Regions from separate parts of the Homo sapiens genome. Here region 2 is linked to region 1. The links come from fine-mapping of genetic effects on gene expression. Tissue or cell type: whole blood. Region 1 holds a variant in brackets; the other region holds the start of a gene. All regions are shown on one strand. Distances are between the middles of the regions.

Region 1 (2,678 bases):
CCCTTGCAACCAGGTGTGACCTTGTCTGTAAATTCTGGGACATGAGCAGAAGTGAGATGTGCCATCCACATCAGTTCCTTCAAAGAACCTGCATGTGCCAGGCTCTCCTGTCCCACATCTCCCAGGAGCTGGACTTAGCAGTGGCACAGGCCAGCCTCAACTGTGAAGATGACAAGGGCTCCAGGGAATCGGGATGCAATAACCTGGGGACCTGAATGACCGCATAGATCACAGTGGCCTTACCAGCCTGGCTTGGCCACATGGTTTGAATGTTTGAATGAGAAATTTCTTTTTCCTTTTCTTTTTTTTTTTTTTTTTGAGACGGAGTTTTGCTCTTGTTACCCAGGCTGGAGTGCAATGGAACGATCTCGGCTCACCACAACCTCCGCCTCCTGGGTTGAAGCGATTCTCCTGCCATAGCCTCCTGAGTAGTTGGGATTACAGGCACGCGCCACCACGCCTGGCCCCAGCTAATTTTTGTATTTTTAGTAGAGACACGGTTTCACCGTGTCAGCCAGGATGGTCTCGATCTCCTGACCTTGTGATCTGCCCGCCTCGACCTCCCAAAGTGCTGGGATTACAGGTGTGAGCCACTGCGCCCGGCTTTTTTTTTTTTTTTTTTTTTTGAGACAGAGTTTCGCTCTTGTCGCCCAGGCTGGAAGGCAATGACACAATCTTGGCCCACTGCAACCTCTGCTTCCCGGGTTCAAGCAATTCTCCTGCCTCAGCTTCCCAAGTAGCTGGGAGAACAGGCACCACGGCCAGCTAATTTTTGTATTTTTAGTAGAGACGGAGTCTCACCATGTTGGGCAGGCAGGTCTTAAACTCCCGGCCTCAGGTGATCCACCTGCCTTGGCCTCCCAAAGTGCTGGGATTACAGGCGAGAGCCACAGTGCCCGGCCACTTCTTAGTTTTTTTGAGACAGGGTCTTGCAATGCAGTAGTGCAATCACAGCTCACTGCAGCCTCGACCTCCTGGGCTCAAGTGATCCTCCTGCCTTGGCCTCCTGAGTTGTTGGAATTACAGGCATAAGCCACTGTGCTCGGCCTCTGGGGGCTTTTTGATTGTCACATGTCTTAGGATGGGAGCACTGCTGGCACTGACTAGGTTGGGGATGGGGTAGGTCAGGAATGA[A/T]AAACATTCTCCAATGTGCAAGAGGGCCCTGCACAACAAAGAAACGTCCCGCCTGAAGTACGAGAGTGCTGCTCTACATGAGCATCCCAGGACTAGCCTCCCTTGTTCCGGTGGGGCCGCCCCTCAGCTTGGGTGAGCACGACTCAGCTCTGCCAATGATAGCATTCTACTTCCCGGCCACTGTGCTTGGGTCAAGGGTGACCACATGACCAGGTCTGACCAACCAGAGTACTTCTCCTCTCTGGCTGCAGGCATTGGTTTAGGAATGAGCATGTGACCAAGTCCCAACCAATGAGAGTCAGCCCTGGCAGTTTGTTGCAGCTGCTGGGAAGGCTCCGGTTTCCACTTGGGTCTCTAAACCGGGAACTCAGACAAAACCAGGGCTTGGCAAACTCCAGTGCTGTCTGCTTTTGTAAATAAAGTTTCATTGGAACACTGCCATACCCATTTGTTTTGTGTTGAATATGACTGCTTTTGCACTACAATGGCACAACTGAACAGGCGTGACACAGGGTGCCTGGCCCTCAAAGCCTAAAATCTTCATGATCTGGGTCCGTACAGATGTTTGCCTCCTGCTGGCCCTGAGCTGCCAGCAAACATTGTGCCATGACTGGATGAGAGGCAAAAGGAGGTGGGGGCATTGACCAGAAGAGGAGTTGAGTTGTGGATGGGATGAGGCTTTTTTTTTTTTTTTTTTTTTTTTTTCAGACGGAGTTTCACTCTTGCTACCCAGGCTGGAGTGCGATGGCACAATCCAGCTCACCGCAACCTCTGCCTCCCGGGTTCAAGCGATTCTCCTGCCTCAGCCTCCCGAGTAGTTGGGATTACAGGCATGCGCCACTACGCCCGGCTAATTTTTGTATTTTTAGTAACGACGGGGTTTCTCCATCTTAGGCTGGTCTCAAACTCCCGACCTCAGGTGATCTGCCTCCCTTGGACTCCCAAAGTGCTGGGATTACAGGCTTGGGCCATGGCACCCAGCCGGAGGCTGAAGTTTAAGATGATCAAGGGAAGGTGCTTGGGGTTGGGTGGGAATGAGAGGAGCTGGCAGAGAAGGCTGGGGCCACAGGGCATTTCAGGAAGTTGGCCTTGCAGGATGAGACTGGGGCCCCATCTAATGCCCTGGGGTAAGTGTCGGGAGGTGCTGAGGCAGGAGAGGGGAAGTGGCAGTCAGGGGTAGGCCCAAGCACTCACCTTGTGACCTCAGGTCCCCCGATTCTCTCAGGTTCGTCTGCGACCCTAGGGGAGGGGAGGGGGACAGAGTGTCTAATCTGGACATAGGGAACCCACCTCCCGCAACCCACTGCCTCTGGGACTCCAAGCAGCCCCTGCCTCAACCCCAGTCCCTCCGGGCTGGTGAGGGCCTGGAGTCAGGATTTGATCTCCTTGTCCATCCCCATAACGGGGCTCATTCTGAAATGGTTAGTGCAGGTCACAGGAAAGATACTGAAGAATGTGGAAGATGAAAGGGAGGGGAGTGGGCAGAGACACACCCTTACATAGATAAGTGGCCACAGAGAGAAAGAGAGAGACACACGCACGTG
Region 2 (2,678 bases), 49 kb after region 1:
TGGGGAGAAAGCTTCCAGCAGATTGACCCAAGGGAAAAGGGCTTGAAACCAGGGCAAGACGAGAGGCTTCAGGTCCAGGAGTTTTCTGGAAGAAGGATCTGGGGCCAGGCCCTGTAGCTGAGGAAGGCCTCTGAAGCTGAGGAGGGGGCTTCCTTGGAAGGCCAGACTCCCAGCAAGGAAGGGGGAGGCCCTGGGGCAGGAGAAAGGACGGTGGTTTGTGGGGAAGGGGTCTGAGTTTGGCCTAGCAGGGGGTCCAGAGGTTGGGGGTTGGGGAAGGGGCTGCCTGAAGCTGAGAAGTTGATAGAGGGCGGATGAGGCCTGGAGTCAGACTGGTCCAGGGCCTAGAAATACCAGCCTGGGTGAGGTGAGGGCCTAGAAGTTGGAGGCCAAGGCTTCCTGGGAGAGGAAGAGACCAGAAAGGGTCCAGGTGGCATCTGGGGGCCCCGGGGTGCTGGGATCTAGGGACAGGGCTGCTTGGAAGATGGGGACCAGGCCTGGGACGGGAGAGACCTTGAAGAAGCCAGAAAAGGGCCGGGGCCCAGGAGAGGTGGAAACCAGCTTCCTGCCAGGGGCTGCCCACAGGCGCCCTGGGTGCGTCCTGGAGGGGCAGAGGGCTGGGAATAAGAGGAGGGGGGCTCCTGGGGAGCCGGCACCCAGCCCCAGACAGGGAAGGCCGGAGCCAGAGGCAGGACTGGGCCAGGCCCTGCTGAGAGTGCCAGGGCCGGGCCTTGGGGGGTCAGGGGCCCTGCAAATCCGGGAGGGGGCGAGGTGTCGGACGCGGACGGCCTGGAGGGGAAACGGCTTAGCACAGGCAAGAGAAGGGAGGGGCTCCTGGAAGCAGGGGAAGGGGCTTCCTGGAGGGAACAGACCCGAGCGGAAGCGGTCTGCACGGGGACAAGAGAGGGGTCCCGAGAGAGGGGCGCCCCCAGGGGTCGGGCTGGGCTGGAAAAGGTGGGGAGGGTGGAGAGGCCTGGAAGTCCGGGAGGGGTCGAGAGGTGACGAGCCGGGTCGGGCCCAGGAAACGAGGGTAGGGGCTCGCGGGGCGAGGGGTACAACGGGGAGAAGGGTTTGGCGGCTGGACCCAGCCAGGGCTCCCCAAGGGGCCGGGCCCCACTCACCGTGTCCGAGTTCCGATCGTTGCCCGGGGCCAGCACCGTCCGCGAAGACATCTTCTCCGGGTCCCGGGGGGCAGGGGCGGCCGGGTGGGGGGGGCGGGGGTCCCAGGGTCCCCTCTCTTCCCCTCCCCCCCCGCCGGCCTGGGGACGCGAGCTCAAAAGCTGGGCGCCGAGAACGCCCGGGTCCGCGCGGCGGGAGAGGGGGCAGGGCGGGGGAGGGGAAGGGACGCCGAGGGTCCTAGTGGCCCCGTGCAGCGGGGACCCCGGGCGCCATGGGGGCGGCGGGCAGGCGGGCGGGCGGGGGCCGCGGAGGGGGCGCGGAGCCGGCCCAAGCGGCGGCGGAGGGAGGCGGTGGAGGGGCTGGGGAGGGAGGAAGGGACGTCAGGGGGAGGGGCGGGCAGGGCGGGGCGCCGGGACCCCGCCCCCCGCCGCCGGCCCTTAAAGGCGCAGGCCCGGGCTGGTCGGGGCGCCGGGGGCTCCGGGGGCTCCGGGGGCGGAGGCGGGTCTGGGCACGCCGGCGGGGAGCGTGTTCTCGCCCGAGACGAGAGGCGCACTGGAGAGGAGAGAAGGGGAGAGAGAGGCCGGGGCAGAGCGCCAGAGACGCAGAGAGAGAGATCGAGAGACGTAGAGATAGAGAGACACGAAGAGAGAGAGACGAGTTACAAAAGGGTGGAGAGGCGCAAGGAGATGAAGGAAGAGCCAGATGACAGAGAGAGAGAGACGCAGGGAGACAGAGACAGAGAGACCCAGAGACGCAGAGGGACAAAGACTGAGAGAGACCCCACACACACACAGGGAGAGACAAAGAGATACAGAGACGCAGAGATCTGTGAAGAGATAGAGATAAAGGGACTGAGCCAGAGAAGACCCCAGAGGCGCTGCCCACATTGTCCCTCCCCCTGGCCCATTCTCTCCCCAGTTGGCGGGGGGGAGCGGGGGAAGCTCTCCCCTCGGAGGCCTAAGGGTGGGGTGGGTGAAGGGGATGGTGTGCGGGGCTTGGCCACTGCTGAGGGCTCAGTGACCTCCCTAGTCAGGCTGCCTCCACTCAGCCACATAGATCCAGACCCGCAGGTTGGGGCTGCAGCATCCACTCCTTTGCACCCCAGCTGGGGTGTGGGGACCCTCTCTGTCCACCTGTATGACCCGGGGCAAGCACTTGCCCTTTCTGGGCTTCACTTTCCCAGTTTGTAAAGTGAAAGGAAGAATCCGTGTGTTGCTCACTGGCAGGTGCGAAGGAACCCTGTGCAGGTATTCGCCTGCAGGGCACAGCCACTCCCCATGCGGGCAGGCTGAGACCAGAGAGGACAAGAGCCTCTCGGAGGCCACACAGCGCTGTGGGGACCATCCATGCTCTGTGGACCAGGGTGGGATGAAAGAAAGACAGGCATTACATAGTCTTGGCCTGGGAGTCACATGGTTTTGGGAAGGGGTCTGTGCCCTGCCTTCTTCTATCTGAGGCTTATTTTCCTGAGCCTCAGTTTCCCCTTCTAAAACAGCAGTGTGCTGGATCTGGCTGGAGCGAGCTGATTGTTATGTCTCAGGAATTTTGGAACTGGTTGTTAA

The links. PIP is the estimated chance that this variant, and not a neighbour inherited with it, causes the effect.
Region 2: MARK4 starts here. The variant in region 1 is fine-mapped to the expression of MARK4 in whole blood (TOPMed, PIP 0.95).

The regions. Positions count from the first base shown.
Region 1 is chr19:45,299,506-45,302,183 of GRCh38, reverse strand. It overlaps MARK4 (microtubule affinity regulating kinase 4), which reads right to left. Exons shown (of 17, transcript NM_001199867.2): 16 at 2,329-2,373. Among named protein-coding and RNA genes, the nearest start is that of CKM, 22 kb to the left of the region's middle. The variant A/T (reference allele first, on the strand shown) is at 1,135.
Region 2 is chr19:45,250,080-45,252,757 of GRCh38, reverse strand. It overlaps MARK4 (microtubule affinity regulating kinase 4), which reads right to left and starts at 1,487. Exons shown (of 17, transcript NM_001199867.2): 1 at 1,119-1,487. The coding sequence starts at 1,169. RefSeq lists an enhancer at 23-579 and silencers at 1,053-1,202, 1,433-1,812.